2 separate regions of the Homo sapiens genome follow, and region 1 is linked to region 2. Evidence: fine-mapped expression QTL. A gene starts in region 2. The other region holds a variant in brackets. All regions are shown on one strand. Distances are between the middles of the regions.

The links. PIP is the estimated chance that this variant, and not a neighbour inherited with it, causes the effect.
Region 1: its variant is fine-mapped to the expression of ARCN1 in whole blood (TOPMed, PIP 0.98).

Annotation. Positions count from the first base shown.
Region 1 is chr11:118,592,169-118,603,856 of GRCh38, reverse strand. It overlaps ARCN1 (archain 1 coat protein complex I subunit delta), which reads right to left. Exons shown (of 10, transcript NM_001655.5): 7 at 11,001-11,148; 8 at 10,159-10,267; 9 at 5,946-6,150; 10 at 824-3,232. The coding sequence ends at 3,143. It overlaps LOC124902765 (a long non-coding RNA gene), which reads left to right. Exons shown (of 2, transcript XR_007062908.1): 2 at 1-958. It also overlaps the pseudogene RNU6-1157P. Among named protein-coding and RNA genes, the nearest start is that of PHLDB1, 9.6 kb to the left of the region's middle. The variant A/G (reference allele first, on the strand shown) is at 6,535.
Region 2 is chr11:118,569,020-118,580,228 of GRCh38, reverse strand. ARCN1 (archain 1 coat protein complex I subunit delta) reads right to left here and starts at 7,820. Exons shown (of 10, transcript NM_001655.5): 1 at 7,679-7,820. The coding sequence starts at 7,681. It also overlaps a transcript of IFT46 not described here. RefSeq lists enhancers at 7,439-7,518, 8,029-8,158.

The sequences.
Region 1 (11,688 bases), 23 kb before region 2:
GTTTGAGACCAGTCTGACCAACATGGTGAAACCGTCTCTACTAAAAATACAAAAATTAGCCGGGGGTGGTGGTGTGGAATGCCTGTAATCCCAGCTACTCAGGAGGCTGAGGCAGGAGAATCACTTGAACCCTGGAGGTGGAGGTTGTGGTGAGCCGAAATCATGTCACTGCACTGCAGCCTGGTGACTGTCTCAAAAAAAAAAAAAAAAAAGGCTGGGCGCGGTGGCTCACGCCTGTAATCCAGCACTTTGGGAGGCAGAGGTGGGCGAATCATCTGAGACCAGGAGTTCAAGACCAGCCTGACCAACATGGTGAAACCGTCTCTACGAAAATACAAAAAAAATTAGCCCGGCATGATGGCGGGTGACTGTAATCCCAGCTACTCTGGAGGCTGAGGCAGGAGAATCGCTTGAAGCTGGGCGACCGTGGTTGCAGCGAGCTGAGATCGCACCACCACACTCCAACCTGGGCAGCTAAGCGAGACTCCATCTCAAAAAAAAAAAGTAAGCAGGTTTATCTGAGGGAATTATCAACAGTTCCCAAAAATTGTTCCCATTATCCCTCATCCCTGGATCACTTCTCATCACGGTCTAATGGGGAAGAGAAGACTCCAAGACTCCAAGATTAAAGATGAAGCCTGACTTTTTTGACTCTCCAACTGCCGTCTGACAAAATTAAGACTCCAATCCCCAAAAAGGCCAGAAGTAGCATCAAATTCAAAAGCTACACTGTCAGGAGTGCATGTATCAAATGTAGAAAAATACGCAAGGAAGCACAATACATATAAGATGGAAAAAGGCAATGAATACTCTCACAGATTACTTTCTCTTAAAAAAAACATGTCATTAATTTTTAATGTTAGGTCCCATTACAGCATCCTGAATCAACAAGCAGACACCAAAGTGAGTCAATAATCCAATAAACATCTCATTTTATAATGCGCTTTATTTGATTAAAGAATTTGCCTTCTTTGTATACACTGGAATGTTATATTCCCTATGTATTTTACAGGGTTACAAAATGTCTCTCATTTTAAATATTACCCCAAAAGTAATCTCAGAAAAAAAAGGTTTTTTGAAATTAAACTTGACTTTTAAAAAATCATACGGACAAACAACTTTCAAACAAAACTGGATTAGTAGGATTTCTTGCCTGCTTAACTAACATGACAGACTTCTTGTCCCAAGCCCTTCTCAGAAAAACCTCATGTGGAAACCAAGCTAGAGATAAGAATTCTTCCCTGATGCAGTTAGGGGAAAGGGAAAGGCTAGAAACTTCTTTGGCAAGCAATTCCACACACAGCCATTTATGTGTGAGTGCTCTGCTTCAAGCACAGTACACTCTTTGCAGGGACGGCCAGATGTTCAGAGTGGGAGTGGTACTTTTCAACCAGCTAAAAGTGCAGAAGTCATCTAGTCGTCTGCCTCTTCCCACTGCCAGTGCCTGCAGCCTTGCAGCAACTTTTAACCACCCCTATGGACTGGAATATTGAGTTAAAAGCCAAGGCTGAGCTGGCTGACGCTGTAGTCTCCATTGAAAAGGAAATGGATGAGATGGAACCGAGAAACCACCAGTACATGATGACACTCAAAAGACTTAGGGGGAAAGAGAAGGAAGGATTTCAGAGATGGGGACAGACTGGTGGAAAATGTTGGGCTGACTGGAAGGAAATGGGGTATACGTGAGTAATATGTACATATCGAAACAATCAGTTGCCTCCTGAAATGCAAAAAATCAAATGGTGAAATGGAGCCTCCTTGATAGTTTAGGGCCAACAGGATTGGCAAAGACTCCCTGAACCCACAGCCTTCAAAATCATAACCCCATTTCTGTTAGAAAGGAGGGGACTGATGACAGAGAGTGCAGTCTGGAAGAGGGAGGTGGTGAAACTGAGGAATGTGAATGGATTACAGACTGTGGCCATTACGTTTTAGCTTAAGTACCCAAAATGTGGAGAAATGAAAATTTGGGTAGCAACAGCAGCAGACATGATTACATGTGGATGTGAAATCCCTAACTGGACAGACATAACCATTCTTTTAGACATCTTGAAGAGGGACTGTGCCATTTGAAAGGTGCTTCTCAGCTATCTTTAATATTGACACAAGTGGGATTCATGGTACTGTTCTAAACTGGAAGGACAGGCCCTGAAAGGAAAACAACTTGGCAAAGAGATGAAGGAATGAATTGATACGGGAAAAGAACAGAAGACATGCGTATCTTTTAACTTCTAGACCCCATACCCCTCAAATAGTTCACCTGAATAGTCCAAAAATCAAGAATGGGTTAGATATACTTGTTCCAGGAGTGCCAAATAAATATAATGCCTGTAAACAGATGATCCCAGTGCCTGACTGAATGTATAGAAAGAAAAACCTAAAGGTAAAGGGTATGAATGATTAAAATTTTCTACAGAGAAAACTTTTTAAAAACAAACTAAGTATGAAATATAACTATATTTAGGGATTATATTTAGGGATTAAAATAAAGGAGCAGCTGGGCATGGTGGCTCATGCCTGTAATCCCAACACTTTGGGAGGCTGAGGTGGGCGGATTGCCTGAGCTCAGGAGTTCGCGACCAGCCTGGGCAACACGGTGAAACCCCGTCTCTACTAAAATACAAAAAATTAGCCAGGCGTGGTGGCGTGCACCTGTAGTCCCAGCTACTCGGAGGCTGAGGCAGGAGACTTGCTTGAACCCAGGAGGCGGAGGTTGCAGTGAGCTGAGATCATGCCATTGCATTCCAGCCTGGGTTACAAAGTGAGACTCCATCTCAAAAAATAATAATAATAATAATAATAATAATAAAATAAAAATAAAGGAGCAACTTAGGTAAAGGTAGAGGAGGTATTTAACTGGGGGCATTCTCTGGAGAGCTTGCTTTCCTGCTGGCCAATACAATCTGCCAAAGAAAATTAGCAGCCTTTCCCTTTATGTTTGTGCCATTTCCTTATCAAAGAATGTCTCTGTGACACTGAAACATGGGGGTGAGTCGAGGGTCCTTGCGCGCAGAGAATCGTGCATTGTATCAGAAAAAAGGGGTCTCCAGTGGCTTGTAAATCTGGGAAAAACTCTTCAGCCATCATTGGCGTCTTCTTTATTAATCTGAAAATTTTCCTTTTCAGCTCCCTCTTCTTGGTATTACAGAATTTCATACTTATCCACTAGGAAAGTGGTCTCTGTGGAAAACCTGACGGGGCTGTTTCCATCTACCTGGGTCACTTTGGTAACCTAGGAAAATAAACAAAGAGTAAGGTAAAGCAGGAGGTTTGAGTCTCCATCATGTTGACTACATTCTCATTACAGAACATATCAATTTCCCTAAAAGCGGTATTAAAAGTAACTGTAAAATACTAGAAAAATGTTCAATTCACAACTGAAAGTCACAGCATCACTCTTCCCCACCAAAATGATTAAGCTGCTTTTCTTCTAGATGGAGAAAAGACAACTGTTGGGACGAGATGTTCCGTAGTATTAAGTAAAAGCTCCAAAATGAGTGGCCACAGCCCAGCCCTGCCCTGTATAACCTATGAAATTCATAGACATTCTATCAGGATGATATATTAACATTCTGACCCAAAAGGCAACGTTCTAGCTCTTCACATTATTCATTTGCTCTGCTCTCAAAGTCTCGTGTTAAAAGTCCCAGTAAGCTGCTCTATCATACTTATTTTTTAGGCATGGCTGGTCCAATGAGGTTTTTCCTTTTTAAATAAATAAATGTCCAGCTTAATTAATTACATGTAACAATGGTACCTATAACGGCACCAATACAACACTTGAACCACTGATTCGTATTTTCTAATGAAGTTTTGGGAGAGCAATTATAATGTCCTAATCTTTGAATAGCCCCAATAGGAAAATTTACCCATTTCTATCTAATGTCTTGAGTTCAATACAGTTGCTTCCAACACTGATGGGGTTATGTCACTAACAGGATAGGGAGAGAGAACTGCTCTTTGGAATCATTCAAGGGAGGAAGCTGCAATTTTCTAAGCATTTACAGGGGAGACGGAGACCATATGGGAAGCTAAGGTAGGGCCAGAACAACAAGCAAGTCAAAAAGAGGGGAATATTAATAATATAAACTGGGTCCTAGTAATGCAAATTAAAAAACTGGAAGAACAGCCAGACGTGGAAGCTCACTCCTGTAATCCCAGCACTTTGGGAAGCCGAGGTGGGCGGATCATCTGAGGTCAGGAGTTAGAGACCAGCCTGGCCAACATGGTGAAACCCCATCTCTACTAAAAATACAAAAAAAAATTAGCTGGGTGTGGCAGTACACGCCTGTAGTCCCAGCTACTTGGGAGGCTGAGGCAGGAGAATCACTTGAACCTGGGAGGCAGAGGCTGCAGTGAGCTGAGATCGCACTGCACTCCAGCCTTGGTGACAGAGCAAGACTCCGTCTCAAAACAACAACAACAATAAAAACTGGAAGAATGATGAGTTAAAAAATAATGATCCGGGCCGAGCGCGGTGACTCGCGCCTGTAATCCTAGCACTTTGGGAGGCCGAGGTGGCTGGATCACGAGGTCAAGAGTTTGAGACCAGCCTGGCCAACATGGTGAAATACCGTCTTTACTAAAAATACAAAAATCAGACAGGCGTGGTGGCGCATGCCGGTAGTCCCAGCTACTCAGGAGGATGAGGCAGGAGAATCGCTTGAACCTGGGAGGCAGAGGTTGCAGTGAACCAACATCACGCCATTGCACTCCAGCCTGGGCAACAAGAGTGAAACTCCGTCTTAAAAAAAAAAAAAATCCGCCAGGCGTGGTAGTTCACGCCTGTAATCTCAGCACTTTGGGAGGCTGAGGTGGGCGGATCACCTCAGGTCAGGATTTCGAGACCAGCCTGACCGATATGGTGAAACCCTGTCTCTACTAAAAATACAAAAATTAGCCAGGCATGGTGGCAGGCGCATGTAATCTCAGCTACTGGGGAGGCTGAGACAGAATTGCTTGAACCCGGGAGGCAGAGGTTGCAGTGGGCCGAGATCATGTCACTGCACTCCAGCCTGGGCAACAGAGCAAGACTCCGTCTCAGAAAAAAAGGAAAAAAATCCATTGGGCACTGTGGCTCACACTTGTAATCCCATCACTTTGGGAGGCTGAGGCGGGTAGATCACCTGAGGTCGGGAGTTCAAGACCAGCCTGACCAACATGGAGAAACCCCGTCTCTACCAAATATACAAAAATTAGCAGGGCATGGTGGCGCATTCCTGTATTTCCAGCTACTTGGGAGGCTGAGGCAAGAGAATTGTTTGAACCTGGGAGGCGGAGGTTGCGGTGAGCTGACAGCGCGCCATTGCACTCCAGCCTGGGTGAAAAGAGCAAAACTCCATCTCAAAAAAAAAAAAAAAAAAAAAAATCCGAAGGAACAGCTCACACATCTCCATTGCTTTGCCTACCTAAAGGACAGAGTTTGCAACAGAATTGGCTCATGATTATTTGTACTAATAAAGGGAGCTGTGACATAAATAACCCTCAAATAATTTCCATTTGTAATAGAATGGATTTTTTTTTTGTAGTAATTTTGTCTTCTAAATAAAACAATTTCATTCTTTGGGTATAAATCAAGTGACAGCAAGGCCTTAAAAAAACCATGTGTTGGGGTGTTTTGGCAAATCGACTTTAAAATATATAAGGTTAAAAAAAAACAGGCAACTAAGTGTTTATGAATCTTGCATAATCCACAAGTACTTTTATCTGTATTAACATTCCATTTCTTTACTTTGTCTGATCTAGAGAGGAAAACTGAGGTAAAGCAATAAAAGAATTTGACCACGATCATACAATGAATTAGAAAGGGAATTCCTGTAGGAGACATCAGTTTTTTTCTGAGCTTTATCTGACCACAAAAAGCCATGCTACCTGTCTGGCATCCTATACGTGTTCCTACTGTCCTACCACTTTCCCTATATATGTTCTCAACTAAAATGGAGTACCTGTATGTTACAGTAATTTTTCTTGGAGACAAAGGAAACTTGAACAGGGAAGAAGTCATTGGGCTGCCCAGCAATGCTAAACTCCAGGCTGCCACTCTTATTTTTGGCATCAATCACAGGCAGGCACCACTCCAGGGTATTTCGTCGACTGTCATGTCGATACTCCCCATCGATCTCACCGATAACAGGCGCGCCGACACCAGACCTGTTGTGAGAAACATTCTGGTCAAGGTAGCTGTTCAGAGCTAGAACTCCACCACGGAAAACCAACCCCAAATTTGATATATGATCCCCAAATTTTGCCTTCTAGGACTACAATTTCAGGGGAAAAAAAGGCTAATAACTTCAAGGATCAAACGATGAAGTCCTAGCACCTTGGGCTAAGAGTTTCACTCAATTCCCTCTGTAGATATAGTTAATATGCAAAAATAGGTATTTGGCAGATATGCCTATGGGCTGCTCCAACTTAAGGACTAGATCTGGGGACTGCGACCAACAGATGTGTTAAGATGGCTATGTTTCCAAAAACCCTGCACCAATAGGTTGCTGCCCTATAAATAAGGAATTTTAACATAATGTAGCACTCTTT[A/G]TAGGAGACAATGGGGAAACAAGCAGATTGATAATAGTGGGGGAAAACTCTAAACATCAATAGTGGAGATGAATGGAGGCCTTTGAGAGAATTTGTTTTCTTGTTCATTTGTTTTTTGAGACAGAGTCTTGCTCTGTCGCCAGGCTGGAGTACAGTGGCGTGATCTCAGCTCACTGCAACCTCCGCCTCCCCAGTTCAAGCGATTCTCCTGCCTCAGCCTCCCAAGTTGCTGGGACTACAGGCGTGTGCCGCCACGCCCAGCTAATTTTTGTATTTTTAGTAGAGGCGGGGTTTCACCATGCGGGCCAGGATGGTCTCATCTCCTGACCCCGTGATCCACTTGCCTCGGCCTCCCAAAGTGCTGAGATTACAGGCATGAGCCACCGCACCCGGCCGAGAATTTGTTTTTAAAGATTTCAGAATGTTTCAAACTTATTGAAGTTGACACCAATGGGTTTATTTGATTTACAATCCAGTAAATGGACTTTTATTTGATAAGTGAAAGCACAATTACCCCTGGGGCAAAATGGAAACATGATGGGAGAAACAGATCCGTAGTTGTCCTTAATCTGCGAGAGAAGCAGGGCTAGTTAAGATTTACTCTGCACCCCTACACACGGCTGACAGGCAGTGTCACCTACTCCTACACATTCTAAATTTACCAGCTTTTAATTCACCAGTGACACTCAATGTTTATATTAGGGATAGGGTAAATAAGGGAGACAAAGTAAACTTTAAGGGTGGCATAAGACTATTAACTCTTCCCTATCAATTTCAGGGTCCTGGTTCTTTTATGTTCCTTCTCTGTGCCCTTGCTCTAATTCTGATTCTGATCTCTTCTAATTTGATCAGTTCTAGACAACGGGAGTAAAATGTTGTGTAAGGGTCTCTTCTGGAGACCATTGCAAAACTGAACTAGAATACAGGAAACCACCACAACCACAATTATAGGGTAGACAGGCCTCAAAATTGTAGCATTCTATAAATAGTCTAGTAAACTAAATCTTGACAAACAAAACTCTACCTGTCACCAACACCCAAGTCCTACAACAGTTCAAGGCAGCCATCTATTGTTCTGAAGCAATAACCATACTGTAGAGGATAAGATGGTTACCCATTAAAGGGGATACTGGTAATAAAGTATATTTTTAAAATTGGAAACAAGAATGACTAAAACCAGACCTGATAATGTAAAGGCTTGAATTATCAAAAAGGGAAGAAAACTATGAATTAAATTAGTACTTTTTTTTTTTTTTGAGACGGAATCTCGCTCTGTCACCCAGGCTGGAGTGCAGTGGCGCGATCTCAGCTCACTGCAAGCTCCGCCTCCCGGCTTCACACCATTCTCCTGCCTCAGCCTCCGGAGTAGCTGGAACTACAGGCGCCCGCCACCAGGCCCAGCTAATTTTTTGTATTTTTAGTAGAGACGGGGTTTCACTGTGTTAGCCAAGATGGTCTCGATCTCCTGACCTCGTGATCCGCCCGCCTCGGCCTCCCAAAGTGCTGGGATTACAGGCGTGAGCCACTGCGCCTGGCAAATTAGTACCATTTTCTCTGCAGCAATAACTGAGCGACATAACAGTAAAGATACACTAAGAATACACTTACTGGTGCTCATAATTAAACATTGTGCTTAATCATGAGGGCTGATGGGTAGGTGAAAGGAGCTAGGATTTACTGTGAAGTAATAACTGCATGCTCACTGTAAATGTTACTAAAAAGATAAGGTAGAGACCATTTCCAGTTGATCCTAGATAGTGGGCCATTTAAGTGTACAACAAAAGCTTATTGGAACTCAACTTCTGGGGTTGACATGACATTTTTGTTATCTTGATTATGGTGGTGGTTTCACAAGTGTAAACATGTCAAGATTATACAATTAAAATATGTGTAGTTTATTGTATATAAATTATGCTCCAAAAGGGCTGTTAGGAAATTTACTGTAACTAATGTAGACATCTTGTTCAACAAGAATCAACAGTTCCCTTGAACACACTCTCATCTTTAGTGAAAGTTTAGAGACTAGCACGTGAAAATGAAACATTCAGCCCGATAGACTCAATTTCTTTGAAACCTGCAAAACAGAAAGTTTGACTGACAAATGGCTCCTCCTTCTGGAAATCTTCATTACTACACAAACAAGCTGAGGACCAACATCTAAAAACAGCTCCAGGCCAGGTGCAGTGGCTCACGCCTGTAATCCCAGCACTTTGGGAAGCCAAGGCAGGTGGATCATTTTGAGGACAGGAGTTTGAGACCAGCCTGGCCAACATAGTGAAACCCCATCTCTATTAAAAATACAAAAATTAACTGGGCGTGGTGGCACACGCCTGTAATCCCAGCTACTTGGGAGACTGAGGCACGAGAATCGCTTGAACCTGGGAGGTGGAGGTTGCAGTAAGCCAAGGTTGCACCACTGCACTGCAGCCTGGCTGACAGAGTGAGACTGTCTCAAAAAAATAAAAATAAAAATAGCCAGGTGCGGTGGCTCACGCCCATAATCCCAGCACTTTGGGAGGCCAAGGCGGGCAGATCATCTAAGGTCAGGAGTTTGAGACCAGCCTGGCCAACATGGTGAAACCCCGTCTCTACTAATAATACAAAAATTATCTGGGCATGATGGCACATGCCTGTAACCCCAGTTACTCGGGAGGCTGAGGCAGGAGAATCACTTGAACCTAGGTGGTGGAGGTTGCAGTGAGCCGAGATCACATCATTGCACTCCAGCCTGGGCAACAAGAGTGAAACTCAGTCTCCAATAAAAATAAAAAATAAATAAATAAATAAAAACAGCTCCAGATCTACAACTGGCTTGTTCAATTTGGTTTTAAAGTCAGTAAAATCCATCCCTTCCAAGTGCTCAATGTATTTCAACAAGTGTATGCAGTAAGCACCACCACAATCAAGTCACAGAGCAATTCTTGGCTGGGTGTGGTGGCTCACGCTTATAATCCCAGCACTTTGGGAGGCCGAGGCGGGCAGATCACTTGAGCTCAGGAGTTTGAGATCAGCCTGCACAACACAGCAAAACTCCGTCCCTACAAATAATACAAAAATTAGCCAAGCGTGGTGGTGTGCGCCTGTAGTCCCAGCTACTCGGGAGGGTGAGGCAGGAGGATAGCCTGGGCCTGGGAGGTGGAGGGTGCAGTGAGCTGAGATCGTGCCAGTGACCTCCAGTGACAGAGTGAGACTCTGTCTCAAAAAAACAATTTCCTTGCTTTACTTATTTATAAATATGAAATGTTTCATAACTTACATGTCAGCCTTGCACAGGGCCCATGCTAATCTTCTCTGTATGGTTCCAATTTTAGTACCTGTGCTGCCAAAGCAAACACAAGTCCTAGAACATTCCTATCATTCCCAAAAGTTCCCTTGTGCCCCTCTGAAGTGAAGTACCTTCTTCTCTACCTCCTCATTTTTATTCAATAGTATTACCTTTTCCAGAAAGACAAAGAAGTGGAATCACATAACATGCAGCCTTTTGTATCTGGCTTCTTTCACAACTAGCTTTTTAAAGAAGTATCTTTGAATGGACAGTCAGGTCAGGTAGGTGCTGACTCCAAAATGAGTTCCAAAAGACCAGTTCTCTAAGTCCACCGTAGAGGACACAGGGACAGCACTTACGGGAGTGGGATGGTGATAACCACATCATTCAGTTCTAAATTATCTTCTTGTAGCTCATATTCTATGTTGACATCACAGCCATTTCCACTCTCCGAGGGCCAGCAATTAACTGAGGAGAAAGCAAAGCAGTCATACTAGAATATTAGAAAAAGATGGCTGGGTGCAGTGGCTCATGCCTGTAACCCCAGCGCTTTAGAGGACCAAGGTGGTAGGATCGAGGTGGGAGGATTGGTTGAGGCCATGAGTTCAAGACCAGCCTAGGCAACAAAGTGAGACTCCACCTATACCAAAAAAAAAAAAAAAAAAAGCCAGGCGTGGTGGCACTTCCCTGTTCTCCTAGCTACTCAGGAGGCTGAGGTGGGAGATCAGCTGAACCCAGGAGTTCAAGGTTGTAATGAGCCATGATCACACCACTGCACTCCAGCCTGGGTGACAGAGGGAGTTTGTGTCTTTTAAAAAAAGTTAGCTGGATGTGGTGGCATGTGCCTATAGTCCTAGTCCCAGCTACTAAAGAGGCTGAGGCAGGAGGATGGCTTGAGTCCAGGAGTTTGATGCTGCAGTGAGCTATGATTGCCCCACTGCACTCCAGCCTGGGCAACAGAAGAAGACCTTGTCTCTAAAACAATAACAACAACAAAACTACAATGGTTTCAAAATGAAAGCTATTAAAAATGAAAACTAATGATAAAAATATACAAAATGCAGCACCAGGTCCATTTCAAAAGAAAGTCATTTTGTCAGAAAGAACTTTGCTATGGTAATAAAAATAAAAGTGTACCAGCAAGGGCTATTTCTAGTTCTCAATGCAAACTAGCTTAGTGGGACTGGCCAGAGGCACTTACTTGTCAGTGGAATAAAAGATTCCTCTGTGGTTTGTAGTCTCCACTTTAGCACCCCTACGTCACTGTTGACTGGAAATGACTTCTCTGGATTCTTCAGGCCAATTAGAGACTCTGCAGTGAAAAGTTTTTTATCCACATTTGGATGGGTCTAGAATGAGAGGGAAAGGAAAACTCCTGAGGTTCAGATAGACGAGAAACAACCCCTCACTAGGCTTATATGGCCCACAATCTAAACATCCAAAATAGAGTACCTAACAAATTCCAATTCTTTTTCATTTTGAAGAAAGATTTCCCTTCTTCAAAGACTTATTTTAAAATGATTTAAGATACTTAAAAACTAGTAATTTTTTAAAAAAAAAGCTAATTTCAACTCTAAAAGCCATTACAGAACAAGTTTGCACCTGAAAAAGTTAAAAGACTATTAACCAAGTTCTTTCCAAAAATACTTCACAGGGAGCAGGTTCATGGTGGGGCCAGGTTTGCCAAGCAGAAGGCTCCAGTAAGACCCTGATCAGCTGCCTGGGTCAGACAGCAGTTCTGGCCTTATATAAAGTAGCAGAAAAGGGCAAGCTCTGTGTAAAGTCTAGTTGCAATTTTGCCTAGAGACTTAAAGTTGTTAAAATCCAAGCCAATTAAGATAGTCTTATCTTTTTAAAAGAAATTGCTTTTGGGGAGGCTGAGGTGAGAG
Region 2 (11,209 bases):
CTCAGCCCCCTGAAAGGAGCTGGGACTATAGGCAGGTGCCATCATGCCTGGCAAATTTTTGTATTTTCGGTAGAAGTGGGGTTTCACCATGTTGCCCAGGCTGGTCTTGAACTTCTGGACTCAAGTGATCAGCCCACCTTGGCCTCCCAAAGTGCTGGGATTACAAGCATGAGTCACCACGCCTAGCCAGAACTCACAATTTCATGTGTTGAATATCAGTTACAAAATATTCCTTTTAAAAGCAACTATCCTAATATTATATAAATGGGTTTTTATGACTTGGGATAAAATTTCCCAAACTGCCAATATATCACACATGGATTCAAAACTGCTAAATACCAAACTGATGATTCAAAAAGTGGCCCCAGTGATGACATGATGTTCATAAAGAATCTAGAAAAAATTGTTTTATTAATATGAAAATGGAAAAAAGTAATTATTTCTAAATTAAACTTTATTTATTTAAAACATATACATATAAGTGAATTATTAACTATTTTAAGAACATATTTGACTATTTTTGCTACCTTTTTTTTTTTTAAGATGGAGTTTTGCTCTTGTTGCCCAGGCTGGAGTGCAATGGCAAGATCTCCGCTCACTGAAACCTCCACCTCCCAGGTTCAAGTGATTCTCCTGTCTCAGCCTCCCGAGTAGCTGGGATTACAGGCGCCTGCCACCACGCCCGGCTAATTTTTTTTTTTTTTTTTGTATTTCTAGTAGAGATGGGGTTTCACCATGTTGGTTGGCCAGGCTGGTCTCAAATGCCTGACCTCGGGTGATCTGCCCACCTCGGCCTCCCAAAGTGCTGAGATTACAGGCATGAGCCACCGCCCGGCCTATTTTGGCTGCATTTTAAAAAGTTTATACAATTGGCAAAAAGCTTTCCTTCTTAATAGTTTCATCAGAAAAGTAGGGAATTCCCTTATATTTGGGATCATTTCACATTGGTTTCTCCTTTTCCTAAAGACTTAGAACTAGTGTCCCAAATTTGCAAAGAACCAAGCTGATATTAGAAAAACTAAATGACTGGGAGTGAGAAAATCTATTTTCTAGTTTTGTTCTTCTATTTACTATCTGCCTGACCTTCAGTTACCCAACCTCTCTTAACCTCGTTTCTTTTCCTATAAAATGCAGCATTATCTAATGACCTTACAAGCTATTATGAGGGCCAAATGACTATAATGAAACTGTACTTCAGAAGTGCTATACAACTTGTAGCACATATATTCATGATGTAAAACAGCACCATTAGTAATAATAAACATGCATCTCATGAAAAAAATTTATGCCACTTCAAGGTAATGGATTTTTCTTTTTTTATTAAAAAAAAAAAAAAAAAAAAAAAAAAAAAAAAGAGAGACGGGGTTTTGCCATGTTGCCCAGGCTACAAATTCCTGGGCTAAAGTGATCCGCACACCTCAGCCTCCCAAAGTGCTGGGATTACAAGTGTGAGCCACAGCATCCGGCCAAGGCAATGGATTTTTGCCTTTGTCAATATTTTGATATTCAAATAATGAATATTGACTCTCCCCCCAAAATTTTACATACAGTTTCAGGGAATGCATCGATCCTCTAGAGAAGTTATTTCAAATGGCCCATAGAAAATCCCCTCATGCGATGAGAAATATTATTAATAAATGGGAGCATATTGTAAATGTAATCCCTGTAGAGCCTCCTATCCCTAAAAGGTTGAGAGTCATAGCTCTAGGAAGTCATGGTCCTCTATGTTAGAATTTTATGAGGTTTTGAAGAAATAAGACAAATCAAATGAACACCTAAAGAAAGGACAGCTCAGACCAAAACTTCAGACCTATATAAACATGCTGCATTTAATAGAAACCCCATATCTAATAATAAACCTGTTAGAAACAATGTTTACAGGCTCAAGGGTAGTTCTTAGGTTTCCAACTGGAGTTAAAAACACCTCTATACCATACAAGTAAAATTTAGGTAAAAACATCAAAAGCAACTTGAGAGGGAAAAAGGAACAAAAAGGTGTATGTTACTATCCACTTTATTTATTTATTTATTTATTTATTTATTTATTTATTTATTTATTTATTTTTTGAGAGAGTGTCTCACTCTGTAGTCCAGGCTGGAGTGCAGTGGTGCCATCTTGGCTCACTGCAAGCTCTGCCTCCTGAGTTCAAGCAATTCTCATGCCTCAGCCTCCTGAGTAACTGGGACTACAGGCACAGGCCAGCACCACCAAGCCTGGCTAATTTTTCTATTTTTAATAGAGACAGGGTTTTGCCATGTTGGGCAGGCTGGTCTCCAACTCCTGGCCTCAAGTCATCTGCGCGCCTTGGCCTCCAAAGTGTTGGGATTACAGGAGTGAGCCACTGCACCTGGCCCATCCACTTTACTGATGAGCATGTTCAAAAACTAATTATAGGTACTGGTAATCTCCATTTTTGCGATATTATAAGAATTAACTGAGTAATTATTTATCGAACATCTACTATACATACAACATGCTTTCTGAGAATTAAGATGACACAGGCTAGCATTCTGCCTACAAGAAGCTTAATAGGGATAAGACACAAACACAAATAACTGTAATATGAGGCAGAATGTGTTAAGTAACATGAGAGAGTAACCGATAAAGTGCGTGGAAATTCAGAGGAAGAGATTACTTCCAGCTGGTACAGTCAGGGATGACTTGATAGAAGAAACAGCATTTAGGCCGGGAGCGGTGGCTCATGCCTTAATCCAGCACTTTGGGAGCCAGGGCAGGCAGATCACCTGAGGTCAGGAGTTCGAGACCAGCCTGGTCAACATGGGAAAACCCTGTCTCTACCAAAAAATACAAAAAATTAGCCAAGTCTGGTGGTGCACGTCTGTAGTCCCAGCTACGGGGAGAGTGAGGTGGGAGGATTGCTTGAACCTGGGAGGCGGAAGTTGCAGTAAGCCAAGATCATACCACTTCACTCCAGCCTGGGCTACAAAGTGAGACTCTGCCTCAAAAAAAAAAAAGAAAGAAAGAAAGAAAGAAACAGAATTTAGATCATGCTTTGATGAATTCCAGGATTTGTTTGTTTTGAAACAGAGTCTTGCTCTATTGCCCAAGCTGTAGTGCAGTGGCGTGATCTTGGCTCAGTGCAGCCTCAACCTTCTGGGCTCAGGTGATTCTCCCACCTCAGCCTCCCAAGTATCTGGGACTACAGGCACAGGCCACCACACCTGGCTAATTTTTTGTATTTTTCTGTAGAGACAGGGTTTTGCCATGTTGCCCAGGCTGGTCTCAAACTCCCAACCTCAAGTGATCTGCCCGCCTGAGCCTCCCAAAGTGCTGGGATTACAGGCATGAGCCGCCACACCTGGCCAGAATTCCAGGCTTTCAGTACGTCAAGATGAAGAAAGAAGTAGGGTAAAATCATATGTCTCTCTTTGAGTCATTCCATTATCCAGATACAAGCAAAACAAGGCTTCCAAAATAGGACCATAGTTCCCCATACTAAGTATAGCATAAATCTCCGAACACCCAGGACACCACAAATTACAGGTTCCAGGCAGTTGACACAGGTCTCTCTGTTACAGCTACTAATATGGCTAGAAGGTATGGTCACCTCTAAACATGATAAATTTATCCTATCCTAAATTAACATTTGTCTTCTTAAAGTTCTTGAAATAATAAACCTCTTTACATTAATGTTTACTGGTTTAACAATTATTAAAATATAGCATATACTAAAAGGTAAGTTAACAATTTTCCCTATTGAAATTTGATCTGATTTTCTCTGAGGAAGAATTAATAAATATGATTACAAAGTTTTTGGTTTTTTTTTTTTTTTTTTTTTTTAACATTTTTGGAAAAAACATTCCAGATCTAAAAGGAACTTGCAAGAGCCCTTGATTGTCTTACAGATGTGAAAACTGAGGGCCCATAAGTTAGATGATCTCTCCAGGACGGTTAAAAAAAAAAAAAATTCCCTCATAAAGTTGAGCTTTGCCAAACAACTTTTAATAATTCTTACATGGTTTGAGTACACTATCTTTGGACTAAATAACAACTCTCTCCTACACAGACTTAACTACATGAATTGTTAAGTGCCTCAAGTAAAAAAACCTGGAGAATTAGGTTTCTGTTCTGCCTTTGCCACTAATTATGTGACCTTGGATAAGTCACTTAATTGATTATTGAAATATCCCTAACATAGGAGGTTAGTTTACATGAAATCCAAAGTGCTCTGTGTCTTTAAAGTTCTGTAAGTCTAAGCATTTGAAAACTACAGTAACAGAAAAAAAAAAAAACAACTACAGTGACAGAAAATGTACAATACTTCCATTTTATACCCACTGCTCCAGTTCTAACCACTTTGGAACAATATTTTATAGTAACATTAGGCTGCCAGAAGGCAAATTGTCTAACCATAACAAATTGTGTGTGCAAGAGAGATACAAGAATAACAGGTGGTATAATAATTCAGGATAAATATGCACAACTCTCTCTCAAAAAAAGTCAAGTTCTTTCTTGAATCTCTAAATGCTTCAGGATCCCTTACTTCCAGAATTATAGTCACCTTCTCCTTTGTAATTCACCGCAATATTTTATACACATATACATGCACACACAATTCATGGTCATATTAAGGCTAGTTTCTATAATTGTCAGGGAGGACTGTTCTGTCTTTTCTATTTATATGAAGCTATTATAGATAAAATCAGAGAGAAGATTACAATAAAATGTAGACCACATACGAAACCTAAAACTTGAAAAGTAATTTACTCAGTGAGGGTTTTAAGTCCATCACATTTCTATTCTAAAACAAAAGCTTGCAGAGAATTAAAACACACACACACACACACACACACACCCGTTATCAGTTTCTGCAGTGAACTTCTATATGAAGACATAAATAGATGGCAAATCAATGGAAACTCAAGAGAATCATTTTCTTTCTTTGCTGTCCCTCAAAACACAATTAAAAAGATACATAAATAATACAGGGGCCGGGCGCCATGGCTCACACCTATAATCCCAGCACTTTGGGAGGCCGAGGCGGGCAGATCACGAGGTGAGGAGATCGAGACTATCCTGGCTAACATGGTGAAACCCCGTATCTACTAAAAATACAAAAAAGTAGTTGGGCGTGGTGGCAGGCGCCTGCAGTCCCAGCTACTCAGGAGGCTGAGGCAGGAGGATAGCTTGAACCCGGGAGGCAGAAGTTGCAGTGAGCTGAGATTGTGCCACTGCACTCCAGCCTGGAGACAGAGCGAGAATCCGTCTCGAAAACCAAACAAACAAGAAAAAAAGTCAGAACATGTTCTCATTAATTTGCAGAATACAAAAAAAAGATCAAATCAAGGCCCGCATGCCTACAGTCCCAGCTACTTGGGATATGGAGGCGGGAGGATTGCTTGAGGCTAGGAGTTCTAGGCCGCAGTGCACTATGATAGCGCCTGTGAATAGCTACTGCCCTCCAGCCTGGGCAACATAGTGAGACCCTGTCTCTTTAAAAAAAAAAAATCAAAAGATGCCTTTCTTTGTACTTTATTTTATGATGAAGTCATGAGAAAGCATTTGTTTCTGCATTTGTTCACTTATTTATCTATTGGAACTTTGCAGTCTAGGACATTCTGCACTTCAATAACTAAAGCCAAAGGGAATTTATTTTTTAAAAAATCAATGTTTACGTACTGATATCTGCAACTTACTTTGAAATGTATATTTTTTTTTAATGGAGAGAGGGATGGATGGATGATTAGATGCATGATAAAATATAGTGAAATGTTAGTTATAGAATCTAGTTGGTGGTTATATGGGTATTCACTACAAAGTTCTTTCAACTTTTCCAGATGTTGGAAAATTTCATAATGAAATGTTGAGCTAAAATAAACGCTGGAAATTTTGATACAACTTTTAGATAAAAATTTCACCCTATCTGGACATTTCTACTGTCCAGGGATCTGTTTGTAAAGGAGCAGGACCCAAAAACATTACACAGAAATCATACCAATGTCTTAACACTCTACAGAGCAGAATGTACTGAGATAAATTGTTCTCCAGAGTACACAAATCTGTGGGTATCTGGATCATGTTAAGTCCCAAATAATTCAGAAATATGTGACACAACTCTATGTATACGTACACATGTCAAAATAGCATGCAAAAGTTATATTTTATATATATCACGTAGGGCTTTACCATCCCTCAGTTATCAATGAATTAAAAATACTAAGTTCCAAGAACCTTTTAACAAAGAATATTTTTAGAAAGATTACCTTTATCTGGTTTATATAATACAAGACCTTAACTTTACTATTAAAATAAAAATATGCTCTAAAATGCATTATTAATTCCAGGGTGTAAACGGGAACTGAGTTTCAAAATCACTAACCAAATACAGAACCTCCTGGAGAAACTGAAAATACAAGTTTCTGGAAATTTTGTGTCCAACACAAAAATTTTAGGAGGCAAACCTGTTTGATGCAATTTATATACCTGAGGCTGAGAAAAGCTGTTCAGTGGCCTAAAGTCCAAGCATGAATTCCCCCCATTATCCAAGTTCTTATCTAAAGGGTTGTCAATAGAACTTATTAGGATTGCCACCAAATTACATTCTGCCATCTCTCAGGTACACTGGACGATGTTTTAAATCAAGTTATCTATTGACAAAAGAATAAAAAAGAACAGAACAGAACATCCTTCAAAAGACTAAAGGACATAAGGTGCACTGAAAAATAAATTACTAGCTTTTTTGAAACCAAAGAATGTCTACTACTTCATGAATATCCACAAATCACAGCGATAAAGGAAGATTGAGTGATGTCAGCAGTTCTGATTTCCTCCATCCTCAACCACATTAACCTTTCTCATCCTTGTAACAGATGAGTATACAAAGATAACGCATGGGAAGGCAAGTAACTGGTCTCGGAGGCTAACCCATCCCTCTTACTCCACCTCCTGTGAGACATCTGACTACGACATGCCACATACACATTTTTCTTCACCTGGACAATAAGTTCCTTGAAGGCAAACCCTGTGTTCTCTGGAACCTGCTCACATTTTCCCAGTGGTCTACACAGTGTATGTACCCCGAGTCACACTAACAAATGGACACAAGTGAGTTCTGCGGAAGTAGTGGAAGGTTTCAGAGACACTTGGGTCCTATACATTAGTGTTAGAAGTTACTCCTTTCCGCTCTGTGTCTCCATTTCCCCCTTCTGAACAAAAAGAAAAATTTCTGGACACCAGTGGATTTGCATTTCGAGTTATCAACGGCCTAGCAAACACCGGGGGTGGGAGACAAGCTCTGATTAACAGAAGGACCAGAACCTCCGGAGACAGGCCCAGCCTGCTGAGCCTAAGCGCCAGGGAACCGGCGGGACAGCATCAGTTCCGAGGTCCGCAGCCTGGGACCCGCACCACCACCACGAAGTTCTCGCAGAGCAAAAACGCCGGGCCGTCTCAGGGGCAGGTCCCAGCAAACGAGGGAGTCCAGCTGGTTGGGGGGTGGTGCGGAAGCGGGCACGACGACAGATGGACTGGAGTCAGCTCCATCGGATCTCCAGGAGACCGGGCACAGGAGGCCACACTGCTCCCCGAGCCCGGAGCAAAAGCACTCTGCCCTAGACCCTCAGGGCGGGGCTCCTCCGGCCCCTGCCCCAGGCCCGCCGACAAGGAGAGACGGTGAGGCTCGGACCCCAGGAGTTCGGGTCCTGGCTCGGATCTTACCATGGTGAGGGCGGTGGTGGGGCGCGCCCGCACTCCGGCTCCACTGGGGATAGGGGTAGGGTCTGGGGAACGGGAGCACCAGCAGCTCTGGACCTGCTGCCCCCTTGACAGGAACCGCTGCCGCTTCGCCTCTTGCCAAGATGGCGGCCCCAAGCCACGTCTTCAACCGGAAGCGGCGCAGGTCAAAGGGCGGGGGGGGGGGCGGGGCCTGTGGGCTGGGGAAATTGAGGGTACCCCGCTCCGGTTACGATTAAGCCCAGGAGGTGTAGGGGGCGTTCACCCTCCAGCTGTGGAACCTCGTATCTCTCCCCTTTCACTGTCATCGCCTTCATTTATTTTGCGTCACATCTTACAGTTTAACAAGCCGCTGGCACAGCCACTATTATTTAATATACAGGATAACCTGTGTGCCTAAAAGACCAGTATCCGGAATATATAAAGAACTTTTTTTTTTTTTTTTTGAGATGGAGTCTCACTCTGTCGCCCAGGCTGGAGTGCAATGGCGTGATCTCGGCTCACTGCAACCTCCACTTCCCAGGTTCAAGCGATTCTTCTGCCTCAGCCTCCGGAGTAGCTGGGATTACAGGCACGCGCCACACCACGCTCGGCTGTTTTTTGTATTTTTAGTTGAGACGGGGTTTCACCATGTCGGCCAGGCTAGCCTCAAACTTCTGACCCCAAGTGATCCGCCCGCCTCAGCCTCCCAATGTTGGGATTACAGGCGTCAGCCACCGCGCCTGGCCTAAGAACTCTTATAACTCAGCAATAAAAAGACAAATACAGTATTCCTGTCTAAAAATGGGCTTCATCTGCAAAATGGAGGGAGTAGAAAACACAAAATTAAAATGAGCAAAAGATTTGAATAGATATGTGTCCAAAGAAGATATATAAATGGCTAATATGCACATTAAGAAATGTTGAATATCCTTAGGGAAATGGAAATCAGACCCGTGGTGAGACGTCATTTCACACTCACTAGGATGGCTATCATAATAATTGTTGGTGAGGATGAATGTAAAATAGTGCAGCCACGTTGGAAAAGAGTTTGGCAGTTCCTCAAAAAGTTAAACAAAATTACCACATGACTGAGCAATTCCACTCATAGGTACATACCCAGGAGAACTGAATATATGTCAACACAAAAATGTGTACTCTAATGTTCATAGCAGCATTATTCATAGTAGCCAAAAAGTGGAGACAATCCAAACAAATCCATTCATCAATAGATGTGGCATATATATGCAATGGAATATTATTTAGTCACAAAAAGGAATAAAGTACTGACATGCTACAATATGGATGAACCTTGAGAATATTATGTGAAAAAAGACGGATACAATGGGGCACTCATATATGATTCCATTAATACGAAAGATCCAGAATAGAAGAAAATCCACAGAGACAGAAACTAGCTTAGTGATTTCCAGGGGCTCAGGAAGGGTAGGAATAGAGAGTGACAGTTAATTAGTGTAAGATTTATTTCTGGAATAATTAAAACATTCTGGAATTAAGCCAGGCATGGTGGCATGATCCTAGAGTCCCAGCTACTTGGGAGGCTGAGTTGGGAGGATGGCTTGAGACCAGGGGTTAAAGGTCAGCCTGTGCAAATTGTGAGACTTAGACTCTTAAAAAAAAAATAGTTCTGGAACTAGATAGAGGCAAATATACTAAAAACCACTAAATTGTATAATTTTAAAAGGTGAATTTTTATGATTTGTAAATTATATCTTTAAAAAAACATGCACTGGAAGCAGGGCAGTTGTGCTCATGTCCATTTTGTATATGAAGAAAATGGTGAAAAGTTTAAGTGACTTACCCAAAGTTTCTAAACCAGTATATGATGGAACCAAGACTCAAAATCTGTTCTTGTGATTCTCATGTTATTTCTTGTATGCCAAATTTCAGATTTTTCAGAGTATAGCTGATTCAGTAGTTCTTCCTTAAATCATTTTATCCTACATCCTTAGCTCAACCGAACAGCACTCATCCATATTAAACCTGTATGTCCACAATTAAGTATAATAGCAACTTTTAATTGAGTGCTTCATTTGTGTCAGGTACTTTACACATGTTATTTCCAATCTTTTACATCAATCCAAATAAAGATACTGAGGATCAAAAAAGTTAAGCATTTGTCCAAACTCACACAACTAGTAAGTGGTAGAGCCAAGTTCAAAGTCAGTTTTCTCCTGGCTGGGCGCGGTGGCTCACGCCTGTAATCCCAGCACTTTGGGAGGCTGAGGTGGGCGGATCACAAGGTCAAGAGATCGAGACCATCCTGGCCAACATGGTGAAACCCCATCTCTACTAAGAGTACAAAAAAAAAAAAATTAGCTGGGCATGGTGGCGCGTGCCTGTAGTCTCAGCTGTTCGGGAGGCTGAGGTGGGGGAATCCTTGAAGCTAGGAGGCGGAGGTTGGGTTGCAGTGAGCCGAGATCATGCCACTGCACTCCAGCGTGGCGACAGAGGGAGACTCCGTCTCAAAAAAAAAAAAAAAAAAAAAAAGCTGGGCGTGGTGTCTCATGCCTGTACTCCCAGCTATCTGGGAAGCTGAGGCATGAGAATTGGTTGAACCTGGGAGGCGGAGGTTGCAGTGAGTTGAGATCACAACACTGCCCTCCAGACTGGGCAACAGAGTAACACTCAGTCTCAAAACAAACAAACAAAAAAACAAAGTCAGCTTTTTCCATTAAAACACACTGCCTCTGTATCTCCTGTGTGTTCCCTAACATTTATTGAACACTTACAGCATACCAGCCATTACTCTAACTTCACACAGATTATCTCATTTAATCCTCACAAGAATCCTCTGAGATAGGTACCTTTATTGTCTCCATTTTACACATGAGGAAATCAAGGTACAGAGAAGAAAACTATCCCACCACAGGTCTCATGGCTAAAAAGTAGGTAAGCGAGGATTCAAACAAAGGCTGTTCAACTTTGGACTATACCCTTAAGCACTGCATTATAGACTTCTTGCTCTTACCCGTATCAATTCCATCTCCAATGGCCTTCTAATAGAAATCTTTAGAAAGCTCAAATATTTTTAAATTTTATATGTCTGGGAGGATATATGTCAAACTGTATTTTAAAGTTTTTTTTCATTAAAAAAACTTTTTTAGAGAGATGGGGGTCTTGCTATGTTGCCCAGGCTGGTCTCGAACTCCTGACCTCAAGCAGTACTCCCATCTTGTCCCCCCAAAGTTCTGGGATTGCAGGAATGAGCCACTGAGCCCAGTCAATATTTTAAAAAAAAAAATTTTTTTTTTTTGAGAAGGAGTTTCGCTTTTGTTGCCCGGGCTGGAGTGCAATGGTATGATCTCAGCTCACTGCAACCTCTGCCTCCTGGGTTGGAGGGATTCTCCTGACTTAGCCTCCCAAGTAGCTGGGATTACAGGCATGGACGACCACGCCTGGCTAGTTTTTTGTATTTTTAGTAGAGATGGGGTTTCACCATGGCCAGGCTGGTCTTGAACTCCTAACCTCAAGTGATCTGCCTGCCTCAGCCTCCCAGAGTGCTGGGATTACAGG